3 linked regions of the Homo sapiens genome follow. The protein of the gene in region 2 interacts with the protein of the main gene of each other region in a pairwise test. Each region holds a gene or a part of one and is shown on either strand. Other genes may lie near its edges.

Region 1 (5,386 bases), about 30 Mb from region 2:
CAGCTTGGCTGGGGCTGACTTCCTGGCCAGTGTGGTCTTTGCATGCAGCTTTGTGAATTTCCATGTTTTCCATGGTGTGGATTCCAAGGCTGTCTTCCTGCTGAAGATTGGCAGCGTGACTATGACCTTCACAGCCTCTGTGGGTAGCCTCCTGCTGACCGCCATTGACCGATACCTCTGCCTGCGCTATCCACCTTCCTACAAAGCTCTGCTCACCCGTGGAAGGGCACTGGTGACCCTGGGCATCATGTGGGTCCTCTCAGCACTAGTCTCCTACCTGCCCCTCATGGGATGGACTTGCTGTCCCAGGCCCTGCTCTGAGCTTTTCCCACTGATCCCCAATGACTACCTGCTGAGCTGGCTCCTGTTCATCGCCTTCCTCTTTTCCGGAATCATCTACACCTATGGGCATGTTCTCTGGAAGGCCCATCAGCATGTGGCCAGCTTGTCTGGCCACCAGGACAGGCAGGTGCCAGGAATGGCCCGAATGAGGCTGGATGTGAGGTTGGCCAAGACCCTAGGGCTAGTGTTGGCTGTGCTCCTCATCTGTTGGTTCCCAGTGCTGGCCCTCATGGCCCACAGCCTGGCCACTACGCTCAGTGACCAGGTCAAGAAGGCCTTTGCTTTCTGCTCCATGCTGTGCCTCATCAACTCCATGGTCAACCCTGTCATCTATGCTCTACGGAGTGGAGAGATCCGCTCCTCTGCCCATCACTGCCTGGCTCACTGGAAGAAGTGTGTGAGGGGCCTTGGGTCAGAGGCAAAAGAAGAAGCCCCGAGATCCTCAGTCACCGAGACAGAGGCTGATGGGAAAATCACTCCGTGGCCAGATTCCAGAGATCTAGACCTCTCTGATTGCTGATGAGGCCTCTTCCCAATTTAAACAACTCAAGTCAGAAATCAGTTCACTCCCTGGAAGAGAGAGAGGGGTCTTGGCACTCTCTTCTTACTTAAACCAGTCCCAGACACCTAGACACGGACCCCTTTTTGCTGATGAGTGTTGGGACTGACTCCTGGAAGACAGCCTGGCCTTGCCCACCTGCACACAGTCTGTTGGATAGGTAGGGCCACGAGGAGTAGCCAGGTAGGCGAGACACAAAAGGCCTGGGACAGGGTCAGTACAAGTCAGGTCAGGCTTCATGCCTGCATCCTCCAGAGACCACAGGAGCCAAAGCGAGCCTCCAGGCCCAGCAATGAGGGACTTGGGAGAAATCTGAGAAGAATGGGTTGTTCTCTTGGGAAGTCAGGGTATCAGATGGGATGGACATCCAGGTCTTCTCTCTGCCTAATTGTCAAGGCCTCCTTGGCTCTGGAGCTATGAAAGGCCCCACTTTCAAGTCACCCTTGCCACTGAGGACCGAGGACTATGCTATGATGAGGATTAAGGTGTTGACTTGCCTCTTTCAGAGATAAATGACAAGCCTTCAGTTTGGGGCATCCTGTTGTTTGGGCGAGGACCCTCTCTGATATTCTGATAATCCCCACCTGTAACCTCAGGTCCCTGGAAATACAGAGGAGGCTGGGATCGCCTGAGACACAAAAATCTTTGGAGAATTTTCTTGACCCTCTGAAGTCCTTCCAGCAGCAGTCCTGGTGGTGCTGCTGGAAGCAGGCAATGTCCTAGTCTAACCTAACTCGAAGAAAAAAAGGAAGATATTCACAAAGATTGTATAAATCTCCAAACTGTTCCCCTATCTGCCCCCAATTCAGCTCCCTTGCCTCCTCCACACCCCTATTACATATAATAAGCAGAGCAAGTGGGAGGAGGGGAAATGTCCTTCCTATATGCCAGGTATGGGGCTGACATTTCAGTCTATTGACCCCAGCTAGAATATAGCTCCATGATTTTAAAGATCTCAGGGGCCAGGCATGGTAGCTCATGCCTGTAATCCCAGCACTTTGGGAGGCCAAGGCAGGTGGATCACCTGAGGTCAGGAGTTTGAGACCAGCCTGACCAATATGGTGAAACCCTGTCTCTACTAAAAATACAAAAATTAGCAGGGCATGGTGGCAGGCACCTGTAGTCCCAGCTACTCGGGAGGCTGAGACAGGAGAATTGCTTGAACCCTGGAGGCAGAGGTTGCAGTGAGCCGAGATTGCACCACTGCACTCCAGCCTGGGTGACAGAGCAAGACTGTCTCAAAAAAATAAAATAAAATAGATCCCAGGGTACTCATTTTTCATATGAGGGAGGCTGGGTTCCTCCCAGAGGAGCCTAAAACAGCCAACAAGAGAAATTGTTGGCGGCAGGAAGATTGCAGAGGAATTCTAATGCAATTATTTGGGACCTCAAATGGAATAAAATGAAAGATATTGGTTAAACATGTCTTCGTTTAATACTTTCAAGACAAAATATCCACTAGCTATTCACTTATTCATTCATCTCATAAACATGAGCCAGGCTCTGTGCAGGGTCCTGAGTACCCAGCCATAAATGAGACTGTGCCCCTGTCTCATGGGGCTTACAGTCTATATCCTGCTTGCAAGACAGCCAATAAGTCAATAAAGAAGATAATTACAGGCAGTACAACAAAGGAAATATGCAGGTTCATGTCATGTAATAGGGATTAATTGAGTTAACTCAATAAACGGTAGGATAGACCTACCATGTGCCGGCTCACTTTTATTGAGCCTTTACTATGTGCCAGGCAGGGGGCTAAGTGTTTTTAAATGCCTTATTTCACTTCATGTTTCCCAACAACCTAATAAGAAGGTCTTAGTTATCTTCATTTTACAGATGTGGCAACCTCAAAGATGCAAAGTCACTTGTCTAAGGTCACCCTGCTAAGTACCAGAGCTGAGGTCTCCAACCTAGTTCTGTTTGACTTCAAAGCCTGCCCTCTTAACCACTAACCTTTTGTCCTAGTTCAGTCAAATTCTGCTTGATTATTGCTCATTAGGGATAATATTAGCTATCTGTAGCATCAGATTGCTGCAAAGTTAACTCATCGTAGATTCTCAATATACTCCATTTTATTAAATGGCCCCGTATTAATCTCCTGTAATAAATTTCACAAATCCAGTGGCTTATCAACAGAAATTTACTGTCTCATAATTCTGGAGGCCAGAAGTCAAAATCAAGATGTGGTAGGGCCCTGCTCCCTCCAAAAGTTTAAGGGGAGAATTATTCCTTGACTCTTTCAACTTCTGGCAGTCCCTGTCATTCCTTGGCTTGTGGAAACATCACTCCTACCTCTGACTCTGTCTTCATATGGCATTTCCTCTGTGTCTCTTGGTGTCTTTTTTTTTTTTTTTTTTTTTTTTGAGACGGAATCTCATTCTGTTGTCCAGGCAGGAGTGCAGTGACATGATCTTGGCTCACTGCAACCTCCACCTCTCAGGTTCAAGTGATTCTCCTGCCTCAGCCTCCCAAATAGCTGGGACTACAGGCACCCGCCACCACACTCAGCTAATTTTTGTATTTTTAGTAGAGATGGGGTTTCACCATCTTGCCCAGGCTGGTCTTGAACTCCTGACCTCAAGTGATCCGCCCACCTTGGCCTCCTAAATTGCTGGGATTACAGACGTGAGCCACCATACCCGGCCTGGTGTCTTTTTTAAAGAATATCAGTCACTGGATTTGGGCCCACCCTAATCCTAATAGTATGACTTCATCTTAATTTAACCAATTATATCTGTAGAGACCCTGTTTCCAAATAAGGTCACATTCACAGATTCCAGGTGGACAAGAAGTTTAGGCGGACACTATTCAACTCAGTACAGACCCAGGAACAAAGTCCACCCACTGGGCTGTGTTGAGTGGCAGTCACTAGTTTATCCTCCCTCAACAAGATGAGCTCCAGGTTGACCTCTGCATCCCCAGTGCTCAGTCAGGACCCAGCAGAGCATCTGAAGGGATCTGGTCAATATGTGTGGAACTGAACTGTTTCTGAAAAGCTCTGACGTATGTTTTGGAAAATCAAATCTTGTTTTAATCCAGACACCAATCTTTTTGTAAGGCAAACAAGTAGCATAAATGTTTAAAAGTGAATTTGCATGTTTATATACTGTCATTCCTTAAAGTTGAAGCATGCCTTTCTTTATTCATCGGTGGAATCCTTTCTCATTTTGGCAAAGAAAATGCCCAAGTGCCTGGCACAAACAAGCACTGAGTAAATACTTCTTGAATGAATAAAACTAGATTCTAAAAATCATTTGATCAAACGCAACTCCACACTTTCTACTTCTCTTCTTTTAGAACCACACTGTATTTCTGCTTTTTTTTTTTTTTTTTTTTTTTTTGACATAGAATCTCACTCTGTCACCCAGGTTGGAGTGCAGTGGCATGCAATCTTGGCTCACTGCAACCTCTGCCTCCTGGGTTCAAGCAGTTCTCCTGCCTTAGCCTCCCATGTAGCTGGGATTACAGGTACCCGCCACCATGCCCAGCTAATTTTTGTATTGTTAGTAGAGATGGAATTTCACCATATTGGCCAGGCTGGTCTTGAACTCCTGACTTCAAGTGATCCACCCACCTTAGCCTCCCAAAGTGCTAGGATTACAGGTGTGAGCCACCACTCCCAGCCCCTATGTCTGCTTTAAGTGGAGAAGCAGAGCTTATGAGGGAGGAGAACAAGGGTGCAAAAGGGACCTAGATATCACTGAGAACTGCCCTTGTTGTTTGGTTGAGGAAATGGGCCCAGACAGTGGACAAGACTTGCTCAGGGAGACAAACGAGATGGTGTCCAGTGCAACAAACCTAGGTTTCCTAACTTCCAGTTCTGTCCACTCTACATCAGTGCCTCTCACCTGTCCCTGCAGGTTCACATTTTGGTTATGTGGATAAGGAGAAATAAATTGAAGATCACAATGTCCCATTTTATCTTCCCCAAGACAAGCTCTGTAACATTAAAGACCACTATGCAAACCGATTACTAGAAAATGTGTGTGGATGGGTTCGGTTTTTTTCCTAAGGTGTTCATGCTTACTGTTTTGGGCAATATTTCAACATAATCTGGCAGAAAAAGAAACAGAAGATAAAGAAAATAGCTGTAGGCCGGGTGCAGTGGCTCATGCCTGTAATCCCAGCACTTTGGAAGGCTGAGGCTGGCGGATCACTTGAGGTCAGGAGTTCGAGACCAGCCTGGCCAACACGGCGAAACCCCATCTGTATTAAAAATACAAAAATTAGCCAGGCGTGGTGGCGTACCTGTAAACCCAGCTACTCGGGAGGCTGAGGCAGGAGAATGGCTTGAACCCAGGAGGTGGAGGTTGCAGTGAGCTGAGATTGCAGCACTGCATTCCAGCCTGGGCGACAGAGCAAGACTGCATCTCAAAAGAAAAGAAAAGAAAAAAGAAAAGAAAAGAAAAGAAAACAGCTGTGATTCAGCAATAGTCATTTTCTCTCCTTGTCACTGCCAGAGTGAGGAAGTGCTGGGTTCTGTCA
Region 2 (7,243 bases):
GCACTCCTAGATAGGATGGCTGAGGAGGGTCTCTCTAATGAGGAGAGATTTGAACAGAGCAAAGAAGCAAGCCATAAGGCTATCTGAAGGGAGAATGTCCCACACAGAAAGATGGCACAAACATCCCAAGCTGTGAATGTACTTGGTGCATAGGAAGAACCGTGACAGCCCATGCAGCTTGGGCAGAGACAGAAAGGACGAGAGCAGCAGATGAAATCAGAGGGTTGGAGGCTGCATCATATAGGGGCCTCCTAAGCCACAGTAAGGGCTCTGGCTTTTTCGTTTTTGTGTTTGTTTGTTTATGTTTGAGATGGAGTCTCGCTCTGTCGCCCAGGCTGGAGCACAGTGGTGCGATCTCGGTTCACTGCAACCTCTGGGTTTGAGCAATTCTCCTGCCTCAGCCTCCAGAGTAGCTGGGATTACAGGCGTGCACCACCATGCCCAGCTAATTTTTGTATTTTTAGTGGAGACAGGGTTTCACCATGTTGGCCAGACTGGTCTCGAACTCCTGACCTCAGGTGATCTGCCCTCCTCGGCCTCCCAAAGTGCTGGGATTACAGGTGTGAGCCACTGCGCCCAGCCTGGCTTTTTCTTCTAGTGAGATGGGAGCTACTGGAAGGTTCTGAAAGAATGACATGATCTGCTTGAGTTTTAGAAGGACTACTCTGGCTGCAAAGTACAGACTGTAGAGGGATAAGGGAGGAAGCAGAAAGACCAGAAGGAAGGTAAAGGCTATAATTCAGAAAAAAGGTGACAGTGACCTTGAGCATGGTGAGAGTAGTGGTGGAGGTGGTCAGATGCTAGATGAATTTTGAAGACGAGGTTGACAGTATTTGCAAATTGAGGTGGATTTCTAGTACTTGCAAATGAAATAGATTTATCTTTAAACAGTGTATCTCTTCCTTAGATAACAGAGACAGCATAAGCTGTGATACCAGACTGGATGGGTTCAAATCCTGATTTTATCCCTTACTAACTGCGTGACCATTAGGCAAATTATTTTTCTGTGCCTCAGTCTCCTCATTAATAAAACAGGGGAATAAAGTAACTATTTCATAAAGTTGACATAAGGATTATCTGTACAGGATTTAGAACAGTGCCTGACATATAGTAAATGTTAGGTAAGGTGTTAATAAAACAAGTAAGTGGGCCAGGCCTGGTGGTTCATGCCTGTAATCCCAGCACTTTGGAAGGCCAAGATGGGTGGATCACAAGGTCAGAAGTTCGAGACCAGCCTGGCCAATATGGTGAAGCCCCGTCTCTACTAAAAATACAAAAATTAGTCGGGTGTGGTGACGGGCACCTGTAGTTCCAGCTACTCAGAAGGCTGAGGCAGGAGAATCGTCTGAACCCGGGAGGCAGAGGTTGCAGCAAGCCAAGATCGAGCCAAGGCACTCCAGCCTGGGCAACAGAGTGAGACTCCATCAAAAGAAACAAACAAACAAACAAACAAGTGTTCATCAATCCCTAGCCTAAGTCAGGCTCTGGGTTATGAGTCCTAATATCTCCTTGAACTTTTCCTCCAGCACTTTCATAGTTTGTAGGTATATATTTAAATGATCATTTAATAAATACATGTCCCCCTCACTAGACTGAGAGCTTCACAAGGAAACTATTTTGTTCACTCTTCTATCCCTGATAACTAGAACAATTGCCCGGTTCCTGGTCACAACCAGGAGATATTTACTGATTCAATGAGGGAATGATCTGATCACATTTCATCCTAATGATCTTTTTACATTTTTATCTACTCCACCAGTGGATAAACTTCTTCATCTTTTTGTCTCCAGTATCTTGTACGGTTCTAAGCACAAAGTAAGTGCTCAATAAATGTTTTCTGAACTAAAGCAGGAACTGTGTAAGCATTTTCTGTAATCACTGTACTAAATTTATGATACTCGTTACCAATCTGAAGGGTTATCTGGCAAAAAAAACAAAAACAAAAACAGCTGGTGTGGACAAACAGGAAACACCTGGATGTGGCCAACAGCCACCAAGATGTTTGAAATAATATCCTTCAATGTGTGAGGCAGTATAGGAATGAAAATACTTGCTGTGACTGTAGCAACAGTGATCATAAATATAAAGGTGGGCACCCAACTGGTATACCTTCAAATTGCAAGTCATCTACTGCTGCCATTCGGCCAGTGAGTCTTCTCCCAATTATGAGGAAGAAAATTTGCAGGGTTCTAAAAGAAAAAAATAGGTAAACATAATAGGATGACAGTATAAAGTATCTGCAAACAACTCTTATGTATTAGAAATGGTATCACTTTCCCTTGCCTCCCTTTTCAGTGGGGTTTAATAGGTTTATATAAAGATAACCACTAAGCATCAGGTATTATTAAATATTAAAACTGTAACAAAGAAACTAACCCCGGGGATCCAAAGGTTCCAATTCAACCTTATTTGGTTGTGTATGTACCAGGAATGAATCTCAACTCACTGTGTGAATGTTTAGAGAGCAGGTGCAGCCTAGAGATGTAACGATGAGGAAGGAGAGGCTGAGGTTTGAAAGAGGTGATGGGGACAGTGAAGAACAAAGGCAGTTCAGCCTAGCCAGTGGTTAAAGGCACAGGCTCTGGGGTCAGACAGAGCTGGGTTTGATTCCCGATTCTGCTGCTTCTCTGCTGTATGCGCGCTCCTCGCGGCCTCAGTTTCCTCATCTGTAAAATGGGTGCATAACGATACCTAGTCACACAGTGCGGGGGTCATTAAATGGGAGTGCGTGTAAGGAGCCTAGAGCGGAGTCAGGCAATTAGTAGGCAATGGGGTGTCGGCGACCCTGCAGCCCGGGACACCGCGAAGCAGAGGCAGTGTTTCAGGGAGAGGAGCTGGGCCGCGGCGGCCCGGGCGGGCAGGAGATCCTGAACCCCCTTAGCCTCGTACAGGTCCCGCAAACTCGGCAGCCTCACCTCGCGGGGTTAGGCGTCCCCCGGGTCCCGAGAAGGCTCGGGCCTCAGTTGCTCCGCGCCGGTTTCGGTCCAGCCCAGTTGCCGGAAGCCGGAGATCCGGGGGGCGGAACCTCTCCGCCTCCTCCGGGAAGAGCCCCGCCTCCTTAAAGAGACAGCAGCTCCCAGAGAAACCTGCGTGCTGCGGCGCGCAGAGCCCGCTCCCGCCCGCCCTTCTCCCGAGGCTGAGCCTCGAGTTCTTAAAGAGACAGGCGAGGGCGGAGTGGTGGGGTCGCTGAGTGTGACTACTTGGGCTGGCCTTGCTCCAGGGAACGTAGAAAATTCTCGAGTTTAGGGTTTTCTTACTGTGTGTTTATACCTCTTTTCCTAAGGAAATATAAAATCGGGTGATGAAAGACGATTGTGAAAGAAAAAATTAAGTCACCCGCGTCACCAGTCCCTCAGTTTCTTTTGGCCACAAAAATTTCACTGGTGAGAAAGTACATGATGAGTCAATTACATTCTGAATGAGTGATCGAAAGCGCGATGTCTGTTCGTATGAGCACCCCCAGTAAGTGAGCGCTTGGAAAGACTTTACATCTAATAATAGCCATATATAGTGTATTTTTTTCCCCAAGATGATCATGATCAGGCTTTGTACATGCAGGATCTCTAATTCTCAGAACAATCCTGCTATCTTGGGGTGATTATCCTCATTTTACAAAGAGAAAGCTGAGGCTTAGAGCATGTGCAGGGCACTTTTGGTTGAGTATGTACCAGGAATGAATCTCAGTTCATGAATTCAGCTGTGCTAGTATATCAGCCACCTCTTATGTCCCATTTCAGATCATCTTGGCCTCACCTGCTGCTTATTTCACCGCCACTCATCTTATTCCAGCGTCAGCAGATATAACCTGAGTGAGCTTGCCTCCAGTCTATGCCTCAGGCTTCTCACTTTCTGCTTCGAGGCTTGTTTCTTCATGCGATGGGGCCATGGGACCTTGCTGGAGCCAATCAGCACCCAGACAGGTGCATCCCAGAAGTGTAGGGGTAGAGAGTTGTTAATGTCTCATGAGGCAAATCTCTGACCAATGGGGTCAACACTTGATGAATATATGCTTTTCCTGTTTTTCCCCCTCAGGCGCCCTTTCATATAGCTTTCAAACTACCTAGCAGGATTAAGCAACCAAATGCCTTTGGAAGTGACGCATTTGACAATGCATCTTCGCAATGGGTCTCCTTCCTTCCCTGATATACAAGCCCTGTACTTCACTCCTGGTGCTTGGATTCATACTTGCCAATAAACTACTCATATGAGGAAGCAATATGAAGGCATGTTGGTACCAAAAGTGGCCCCAGAAAATAAAACCTTAGGTTGGCATTTTCTAACTGAACTGCGCACCAGTCACATGGCAACAACAAATATATTGCTGGTGTTAAGGGGAGAGAGAAGGAGGGGGGTGGTGGTGGTGTGATAACACTTAGAATAGAATGGCATCACAATTACTAAGGTGTCTGTCTGCAGTTGATTGGGATAACGTGCAGGTAGAAGATAAGGTGCTGAGTTATCTAGTGGCTGTGGCACAGGAACATTAAGAGGACAATGGTAATTATAAGGACTATGGAATGGACTGGGTGTTCTTAACTCCATTGGAAACCTTGAAAATAAAATGACAGACTTAGAACAGCCAACTGTCAACTTGAGGCACTTTGTGAAAGCTAGAGAGCCTCTATGGCAGCTTTGAAGATTCTTATTCTTCTATAGCCTTGAGAAAGACTGGACTGAAAATCAGGCCCAAGATCTAATTGTAAGGGTGGCAAAGTTTCAACGAAGACTGAATGCACAGCCTCTGTAGGTCTCCTCCATCAAAGCTGGGGCATTGTCAGAAAATGAATGGGAACCTGAGAACTGGGATGAGGATATTTGGGTAGGAAAGCCTGAGACTTGACCATCCCTCGTTTCCAGTTTCCCTTGAATCTTTCAAGGGAAAGGTGGCTGTGGCAGAAGTAGTCCTTTCCCCCTTGTTAAAGGAAAGCAAAGTCCTCTTGCTTACGGATCCTGCAATGATTACCTGCACAACATTGCTTTGGACTAAGGGACCAATTTAATTGTAAAGAACATGCAACAGTGACACATAACCATGGGTCTTACCCACTGGTCTTACCATGTGACTCAGTCATCCAATAGTAGGTGGCCTAATAGGATGGTGGAATGGCTTGTTAAAGGCACAGTTAGGGCTCCAGGTTGGGGAAAATACTCAGGAGACTGGGGCATTGTCCTCCGGCATGTAGTACATGTACTAAACCAATGGTTTATCAATTATTTATAATGGTACTTTGTTCTAAATACCTATAGATTTGCAAACCAAGGGGTAGCACTTCTTACTATCACTTTCAGTGAAACCTACACACATAGAATGTGTGCCTCCTGCGTCACAAGTTTAAGTTCTGCTTGGTTGGAGATCCTGGTCCCAGGGAAGCAGGGAAGGCGGAGAGAGAACACTTCCATTCCAGTTACAGTTCCACTGAATTGGAAGCTGTAACTACCACTTAGGCATTTTTGGCTTCTCATACCACTGCACCAGCAGGTAAAGAAAAGAGTGCCGGCTGGGCGCGGTGTCTCACGCCTGTAATCCCAGCACTTTCGGAGGCCAAGGTGGGCGGATCACCTGAGGTCAGGAATTCGAGACCAACCTGGCCAACATGGCGAAACCCATCTCTACTGAAAACACAAAAATTAGCTGGGCATGGTGGCACACGCCTGTAATCCCAGCTACTTGGGAGGCTGAGGCAGGAGAATTGCTTGAACCTGGGAGGCGGAGGTTGCAGTGAGCCGAGATTGTGCCACTACACTCCAGCCTGGACAACAGAGCGAGGCTCTGTCTCAAAAATAAATAAATAAAGAGTGACACATGGTGGGGAAAATCAGCCCTGATTACTTTAAGAAGTTGGGGGCTGGGCATGGTGGCTCATTCCCATAATCCCAGCATTTTGAGAGATCAAGGAAGGAGGATTGTTTGAGGTCAAGAGTTCAAGACCAGCCTGGGCAACATAAGGAGAAGCTATAACAGTCACAAAATTTGCCGGGTTTGGGTGGCACTCCTGTAGTCCTAACTACTCTGGCTGAGGTGAGAGGATGGCTTGAGCCAGGAGTTTGAGGCTGCAGTGAGCTATGATCACACCACTGCCCTCCAGCCTGGTGACAGAGGAAGGAAACCCCGTCTCAATTATTTAAAAAAAAAAAGGTCTTGGGTGTATTTTAAAACACTTCCCAACTCTGAGCTCTATGATTCTTCTTTCAGTTTCTCCAATGAGCCATGCTGTCTCTGGCTTCTGGGCCTTTGGCCATGTGGTTCCTTCCACCAGGACACTATCCCCACTTTAGCCAGCTGACTGCTTGCCGTCTTTCTGGTTTCAGCATAGAAATCACTTCCTCAGTGAAGTCCTCTTGACTTCTCTAACCAGAATTAGCTTCCCCTTCTCCCTGCTCTCGTAGCCCACGCACACCCTCCGCCTCTGGACTTCATTTAGGAAATGGTAGTTTTTTGTTTACTTGTCTATTCCCCGCACTAGACCATGACTTCCTTGAGAGAAGAGGGTGTTTTATTTGTCACTCTATGCCCAGTGCTAAGGGGAGTTGCAGGCCCCAGGTTTTGTTAGAAATGGTCCCATTTCTGTCTCTGCCCTGGGAGGTTTGAGATCCATATCCCCTGGGGAGGGCTCTGACTACAGAAATAGTCAACCACCAGCTAGAAGCCATGATTGGGGGCCGGGTGCGGTGGCTCGAGCCTGTAATCCCAGCACTTTTGGAGGCCAAGGCGGGTAGGTCATCTGAGGTCAGGAGTTCAAGACCAGCCTGACCAACACGGTGAAACCCTGTCTCTACTAAAAATACAAAAATTAGCCAGGCGTGGTGGCAGGCGCCTGTAATCCCAGCTACTCAGGAGGTTGAGGCAGGATAACTGCTTGAACCTGGGAGGCAGAGGTTGCAGTGAGCCAAGATCGTGCCACTGCACTCCAGCCTGGGCGACAGAGCGAGACTCCATCTCCAGCAACAACAACAAAAAACCATGGATGTTTGTTGGGAAAACAAAGATCTTTGTTGGGAAAAACATCTTTCATTAGTAAAAGAAGAGTTTGTGTATAAAGAATAACTAATAGCCAAATCTACTGACTTGTGAGAGAGCATCTAACAGGTTCTCTTTAAGTGTGGTCTTTTTAAGTACTTGTTTTTTAAAAAATTAATCAGAGGGAGAATTTAAGATGTGGAATCTACCAATCCAAGAATCTCTCAAAAGCTCAGGCAAAGAATTGGAAATGATAATGATTAAAACAGACCTTTGTGCACCTGG
Region 3 (7,797 bases), on a different chromosome or scaffold from region 2:
AGCCTCCCAACGTGCTGGGATTACAGGTGTGAGCCACCACACCCAGCCCAACAACCACTGATGGATGTTCTCACTCATTGTTCTGTCTCAATCTCTTATTTTCTCTCTCTCTGTGTGCTGTGTTCTGGGTAATTTCCCCATACCTTTCAGTTAACAGTTCCCTCCTTCAGCTATGTCTGATCTGTTTTTGAATTCATCTATTGACATTTTTATTTCAATAACTATATTTTCTATTCTAGACACTGTACTTTTTAAAAATCTGTCTATTTTGTCCTCATAGTGTCTTACTCTTTTCTCAGGACTCTTATGTCTATAATCCCTTAAAATATATTATTATTTTCAGACAGCTCTTCTATTATCTCATATTCTCAGGATTCTAATCCATTTGTTGTGTTTGTTGATTCTTAGTAATGGGGATTTTTTAAAATCAGGTGTTTAGTAGTTTTGAATTATTAGTTCATTTTTGACAAGGTTTTCCCCCCACCCCCACTGTGAGAATCTCTTCATGCCTTGATTGTGATTTTGCATTTGTTTCTATCAGGAGTCCAAGGATATCAGCAGAATGTCATCAGACTGGGATCAGTTTTTATGGTAATTCCCAGGGATGAAGGTTTCTGGGCTGCATGAAGGTTTCTAGGCTGCAGATAACAAAAATTCAAACTCCAATCTGTACAAAGGGCAGGCTTAAGCTTTCTATTTCTCAAGGAAGACTTCCTCTCCGCCCACTCAAAGCTCAGGCAGAGATGAACATGTTTTCTTATTCCTCTGTGTTGGGAATAAGAAGGGTATGTGTCTTTGTCCATCTTTTCCCTAAGGAGGTAGTCTTTCCAGGGCGCTGGCTTTATACAGGGTTTTCAGTTCTAAATTCCCACTTTGCTTAGGATCAAGGCCTTATTTCCTGACTTGAGAGTGCATGAAAATCCAGGCTGTAGGTTCCTGAGACAATACCTCTTGGACCATTCCCACTCATACTTTGTAGCTTATGTGATCACTGCCCTGTTTGCCATTTCTGGCGCCTGTGTGTTTTCATTTCTTTTTTGCCAGCTCATTCATTCAGTTAAAGCAATACTGGTTACATTTCCCCTGGTATTTTTAGGTAAGCACAGTGGGAAGATGTTCAGGGTTCATTGGTTTTTCATCTTGCTGGAACTAAAAATGTCTTCTCAGGCTCCTTGTTTAGGAACTTGTCCTCTGCCTGTCCTTTTACCTTGTCCTCTGCTTGTCCCTTTTCTGAGAGTCCTTATTTGGCCCTCCTGTCCTTTCTCCCTGTATCGGAGGTCCTCATCTGCTTCACCAAGACCTCTGGATCCCTGGACCCTAATAGTTTTTAACAAGAAGGCAGGATGAAATGTACTCATAAAGCTAAGTTTGAAGCTTTTTTCTGCTACTTACCAGCTGAGTGACCTGGGGGCAAGTTACTTGGCCATTCTAGGCCAATTTCCTCATGTGTAACGTGAGTGAAACAGTGAACAAGAGGGCTCTGGAGGCAGGCTGTGAATGTGCAATGAACAAAGGGACTTGGGAATTGGGGTCTTCATTGACTGGCAAGGGGTTAGGTGGTTGTGCCCTGTGGTTAAACAGGTGATGGGCAGGGATTCAATTCCATGAGTCCTCAGGCACGGTGTCAAGCAATTTACATTTAATCCTCAGGATTGAATGTCAGTTCTGCAAGGAATGTGACTGTCTCATGTTACAGATGAGGAAACAGGCTGGGAATGGTTTAGTAACTTGCCCAGTTCTGTCTCTTTCCACTAGATGACTGCTTTGGGCTGAACATCCTTCTGATCCAAACATCCTTTATAGGGATATTCACTGGAGACCTAACGCTGCTTTAGAAGTGATTTTTAAAAAAAATTCCCATTTTGTTTTATTTTATTGACTTATGGGAGAGTAATTTTCTTCTTTGAATTTTGGGAATGGGGTCCTTCTGGGGTGATCTCCTGTCAAGTGTGAGCTGGCACAGGAGTTCGGAGGAACAGCTGGTTGCTACACCTCCCCTTCCCCTAAAGAGAACAAAGGCTCAGGCCCTCTTTGACCACCAGGTAAGTAAGAGTTCCCCACTCTCACTCCAACACACAGATAGGCTTTTTGGAGCATTTTCTGCCTAGCTACCCCTCTTGCACCCAGCTGCCTCTGCCTGGGCCCCACTGATGTTCTGAGTCCCTGACCCAGGCACAGATATGGGAGGTGAGGTGTGTCTCTCTGTTTGGTGACTTTCCAGGTGCCAAGACACACCTGATCAGCATTCTGGATGCAGGCACTCCCCATCACCCCTTACTTACAGAAATGGGCCACAGGATGAAGGGTATGTATCTATGAATGGCAAAGCTGTACAGTAAGATGAAGAAGCTGAAGAAGGATATCTCCATGGTGATGATAAGCCTCAAGATGGGGTGCACGGTGAGTGAGGACAACAGTATCATTGCAGCTATTAGGCAGCCCTGCAGTGAGACATAGACACCTGAGCCAGCAGCAAGGGCCTTTCACCATCTCTCTGAGGACCCCTGGAGCCTACTCCTCCTTCCCCCCACCCTCGGCCAAGGCCCCCCACCCAGGGATACCAGTTTAGCTCACCAAACTCCGAATCTTGATCTCAGCGTGCCCCAAGAGCCAGAACTCTTTATTGCTGTCTTTTAATTCCCACCGGTAGCGGCGACACCCCCTCCTCGTGCCCACTTCGTGCTTGGGCTGCACCGCCTTTTGAGGTTTGTCCGATGGCTCCTTATGGTCCTGCACCGCCTTTTGAGGTTTGTCCGATGGCTCCTTACCGTCCTTCTTGTCTTCCTCGGGTTTGGCCCCGGGTGGAGGTGGAGCTGGTGCTGGCTCTGGCTTGGCCCCCTTTGCCGCCTTAGGTGCCATGACTGACTCGGTGTCCTTGGCTTCTCACAGCTGGCCTGTTTCTTCTCTCTCCTGCTGTTTCTGGGTAGGCCAGGCCTACTAGAGTGCCTGGTGTCCACCGAGCGGCTCAGAGGGCGTGCTCAGCTAACTGCCAGGACCACCGAATGCCAACTCCCGCGCCCTCTCCACGCGCGCCCGTCTCCTCGCGCAGCTCCCATCCGCCCGGCAGCGGCCGGATCCTCCCACCCTCCACGCGCCGGCCCCCGACGGGCCCCAACTCCGTTCCCAACCCGCCGGTCCCACCTCCGCGCGGAGCTGCCCTCGCGGTCCCATCCCGGCGTCTCCAGGTGGCCCCAGGTCTGTAAGCCGCCGCTCCGCTGCGGGGTCGGGGGGCTGCGAGCACCGGGTCACGGCCCTGAGCTCCGCGGGCGCAGCGCCAAGCGCAGGAAAATACAACGCGACTTTCACACAAGGCAACGAGAGGAAGCAGGTGTTCTCGATAAAAGCAGCAGCCCTAATTTTATGGTCACATTTAGGCTGGAATGGGTGACAGCATGCGAGCTCGGGGGTGGGCTCGGAGGCAGCGATTCGACAGACACGTGCATCTGCTAGGGCGCCGGGCTGGCTTCAGGCGGGCCTCTGCGGGGCGTCGGGGCCGGTTTCGGGGTAGGCGTCCTTGGCGGGGGAAAGCTTCCTTTCAACTTCGACTCCCAGGAATCTTTTCAAGTTGGTCCTCATCTTCGTGGTGACCACAAACGCATCGATGCAACACACGATTACCGCTGTGAGACACAGGGACTGTCAGATACAAGACCATATGCGGGAAGGAAAGACGGGGTTATTTTGCAGCTCAGTAGCAACCTCTCGAACCTATCCCTATCCAGGGTGGGCGCTGCGGGTGGCCTCCTGTCCCCTCTGACCCTTCACTACTTTCTTGGCGCCTGCCCAATTGGCTGCTGCAGGCGGATTCTGCCTTTCCCAGAAAAAGGGATTTTGGAAGTGGGGGATTTTGTTGCCAGTAGTAGCCTCGCTTGATGTCTGAGGCACCCGGAAAGGACTAGGGAAGGGCAGTGGCCCTAGGTGGCTGCAGGTAGGGGTTAGGTCCTGAGAAGCCCTCTCCGTGGAAAGACTTTTGGGCTATGTTTGCAAAGGGCAGGAAGGAGTTCCTAAGGGGAGGAGGAGGACCCAGGCACTGGACTAGGGTCTCTAAGGAATCTGGTGTGGCCAGGACCTCCAGAGCCGCTGAGAAGGGGGCAGAGTTGAGGCTGGAGAGGTGCAGGATCTGGGACTCTATCAGGAGGTCAGGTGTGAGATTCAGAAAACCTGCTTGCAGTGTTCATGAGGTGAATGGAAGGTGAACCAGGCTGGAGGCAGGAAGACCAGTGCGTGGTGGGGTGGGATGCTGCCATCCAGGTAAGAAATGGATACCTGGGGGTGGGAACCCCTGGCAGTAGAAGGAGTGATAGCGGAGTCAGCCGATGGGGACCAGGGGCTGATGGCACAGATATTCCCCTGTGCACTCCGGGACTCTTGACAACCTTGGATGTTTCTCTTTATGGTCACTTAATTCCTGGCTGCTTAATGAGCTTTTCCTAGGTATGTCTTGCCCCAGTGAATCTGTGAGCTTCCCCAAAGGGGAAAGGGCTCTATCCCCAGCACTGAGCTCATGTCTGGCACAATCAATGGGATTGACAGATATTTATTGATTATAGAATGAATTCAAATGAACTCTTTTTCTGCATTAATTTCTGTTCTCATTGTTTAACTTCTTGAACCAAAGCCCTACCTCCCCTCCCAACCCCCTGAATCTTCCAAGCATTTGATCTGCCATTTCTTTTGAGTCCCAATTTGTCCCAGTCTTGTGGCCCAGAGCAAGGTATTTAACCTCAGTTCCTATATCTGTACAAATGAGAGTTGTAAAGATTAAGTCAGAGTGTGCCCTGCTTGGTGCAGGGCATATACTGGGCACTTCAACATGTGGCAGTTTCCTTCCTTCCTTTCTTCCTTCTTTCCTTCCTTCCTTCCTGAATAGGCTGGATTCCTCACTTTAGACAGTGCACTTTTCCCCCCTTACAATCTCTCTTATCATCTGTCTTTAAAATACAATTCTCTAGTCCAGAAAATCAAAGTCCTATTTATAGACAAAAAGATCTTGCTTAACATTTCAAAAATAGTGTCCACAATTCTCAAAAGGGGTTTAGCAGACTCTTGTTTTTGTACCTATTTGGAGAATGCATGTTAGAATTAAGATTTTCATGAGCTCAGAGTTTGTGCAACTTCATATCACCTGAAGAAGTCAGTGCAAGAAGGAGAGTGGGTGGCAGTGGGGATTTTGCTTGGTTAATGATATAATGGGGTCTGCCAATTTCCCTTTTCAAAGTCTTGGAATACTGATCTTAAATGGAGTCATGAAGGCCTCTACTTACCCCCCCGACATAGAGTAAATGCCTTCTTTTCTTTTCTTGCATGGCCAAGATGGCAACTACTGAAAGGAACACAGCTGTAATGATACTGTTGGTAAGATCCTGTAATAAAGAATTGAAAATTATCAAGTTTACACAACAATATAATTTCACAAATATTTAAACTGGTCAATTACACATCTAAGAATAGATGCCTTTAAAAAACCTTCCATTTGATTAAGATGAGGAGGAACCTTCAGAGGCATAATTCTTACATCGTCCAGAGACATGAGTTTATGTGGTTTTAAGATCCTAGATATGACTTTGTCTGTAGAAACGGGTTTATTTTCATTAAAGAATACCATTAGAAAAAAAGCTAACAACTTTTTCCTTAAAGGGAATAGGAAAGTGAGCATGAAAAAACCTGGTGGTCAAGGGGCCTATCCCAAATTGGCCCTCCATAAATGTGATTTTTTTTGGGAAGTCTTATATTTTTTAATGTAAATTCTGCATTCTATTCCATAACTCATTTGTTTTAATATAAAAATAAAATTTTAGATGAGCACTTTAATTATTGGTTTACTTCTTCTCCCAAATCTGCAGGTAAAGCCAACGCTCTGGAAATTGGGCCACATTTATTCTGTGAGTTCATGTGTCCCAAGAGCATATGAACTCATCTGAGGAGCAGGCCTGATATTCTGGAGTGAATGTTTTTTGCTCTTTCCTGAAACATGGCCAGAATTGGGTGTGCCCCGACATCTGCAGGCTCATTGTGCTCCTTCTTCTGGGTTTCAATTGGATTTCAGTCCTGAGTTCTTTTTTTTTTTTGAGACAGAGTTTCGCTCTTGTCACCCAGGCTAGAGTGCAATGGTGCGATCTTGGCTCATTGCAACCTCCGCCTCCCAGGTTCAAGCAATTCTCCTGCCTCAACCTCCTGAGTAGGTGGGATTACAGGTGCCTGCCACCACACCCAGCTAATTTTTGTATTTTTTAGTAGAGACAGGGTTTCTTCATGTTGGCCAGGATGGTCATGAACTCCTGACCTCAAGTGATCCACCCGCCTCGGCCTCCCAAAGTGCTGGGATTATAGGCGTGAGCCACCGCGCCCGGCCAGTCCTGAGTTCTTTAACTGCTAGCCCAACCTGCTTCTTTGTGTGCTGAAATGAATAGTGAGGATGAGTGCGTGGCAGTGCCCTCCTGGGTGAGCAGTGGCTGGGTTTCCTTAGCAAAACAATAATGGAGGAACGAGTACACAGTGTGTCAGTGGCAGCAGTGTATGGCTATGGGCAAAAGCCCAGAGGACATAACCACAATATGGGCCAGAGAGCTAATCTGAATAGCTCAAGTCTTTGAGTGTTGATGGTCTGCCTTGGTAATGGCAGCCTTTCTGGCACACTCGTCCAAACACAGCAAGAAGCACTGCCATCCAGTGTATGGTATCATGGAATCACAGTGGCTCCAATGGAGCTCTTTGATGTGTCAAGCATTTCCCAGTCCATCATTTAACCTCATTTAACCCTCACAAAGCAGCCTCCAAAGTCAGAATTGCCATCATCCCCAGTTTACAGAGGACATGGTGGAGGCTTGGAGTTTTTCAGTTGCCTAGGATTGAATAATGGGTGGAATCAGAACTCAACTCACTATTGCCTCCCATGAGGGACACCCAAATAAGGAGGAAATGAGCTATTCTCCCAGTCTGGAAGTGCAGCATCCAATCCATCTTTGGCATTTTCTGTGGAATGGGTCTGGAGGGTCAAAATGATACAGTACCAGTCAGTTGAGTATTTTTGTTGATGAACTCTTTTGGCCTGCCAATTCCTAGATTGGGCGTATTTTATCACCCATCTGCCAACTTGCTAATTTGTAATATGGGGATAATGACTGAGGTTCATTGGCTCTGAGGATTAAATGGCATAATGAATCTGAAAGCATCTGATAACATGCCTGGCATCTAGTAGCTGGTGGGAGTGCATCAAAATGTAGGTTCATATCTGCCCTCAAAATGTTAACAGATAGTAAACTCTCTGCAAACTCCAGATGTTCTTCCTATTGGGGCTGGCGACCGAGGAGCCCTCTTGTGGAATGTGACTTGCCTCTTGGAAAGGCACTAATGCCTACTGTTTTGGTGCCTGGTAGTTAATGCTGGAACAGGGGTATGTAGCAGGGCTGGTGGAGGTTGGAAGTAAGTCCCAGCTGGGTTCTGCAGGCTGAGCGAGAGGTCTGCCCATAGTGGGCAGGCCTGACTGAGGCAGGTACAGTGGTTTGCAGCTTTGCAGGAAGCTTACACCTGAGGATTGTATAAACCAAGGTAGTCAAAGATGTGAACAAGGATTCTTACAACTGAGAAGCAGAGTATAAACTTCAAAAGTCAAATATTCTTTTTTAAAAATTGCTCTCTGTTGGCCAAAATATCTATATAACCGGAGCTCAGTTTCTCTGACCACTAACCAGCTGTGGTCTTAGATTACAAGAATTTGAACAAACGCACATCATTAATGATAATAATAAACCAACCACAGACCAGGCCCAGCCAGTCTTTGACTTCCTGTCATAATTT

Evidence for each region. The genes of interacting proteins can lie anywhere in the genome.
Region 1: the proteins of YIPF1 (region 2) and CNR2 interact in binary tests that used the Homo sapiens proteins (3 or more experiments, as listed by UniProt).
Region 3: the proteins of YIPF1 (region 2) and CMTM2 interact in binary tests that used the Homo sapiens proteins (3 or more experiments, as listed by UniProt).

Annotation. Positions count from the first base shown.
Region 1 is NC_000001.11:23,870,011-23,875,396, reverse strand, and holds the end of CNR2 (cannabinoid receptor 2), read left to right. Parts: coding exon 1-862; 3' UTR 863-4,882; downstream 4,883-5,386. UniProt on the Homo sapiens protein: Heterotrimeric G protein-coupled receptor for endocannabinoid 2-arachidonoylglycerol mediating inhibition of adenylate cyclase. May function in inflammatory response, nociceptive transmission and bone homeostasis.
Region 2 is NC_000001.11:53,886,798-53,894,040, forward strand, and holds the start of YIPF1 (protein YIPF1), read right to left. Parts: upstream 3,001-7,243; 5' UTR 2,916-3,000; intron 2,667-2,915; 5' UTR 2,447-2,666; intron 2,190-2,446; 5' UTR 2,141-2,189; coding exon 2,110-2,140; intron 1-2,109.
Region 3 is NC_000016.10:66,574,670-66,582,466, reverse strand, and holds the start of CMTM2 (CKLF-like MARVEL transmembrane domain-containing protein 2), read right to left. Parts: upstream 3,005-7,797; 5' UTR 2,860-3,004; coding exon 2,575-2,859; intron 2,442-2,574; coding exon 2,283-2,441; intron 1-2,282. Other genes in the region: CMTM1 (CKLF-like MARVEL transmembrane domain-containing protein 1), read right to left, coding at 3,466-3,636, 5,265-5,363; CKLF-CMTM1 protein, read right to left, coding at 3,466-3,636, 5,265-5,363.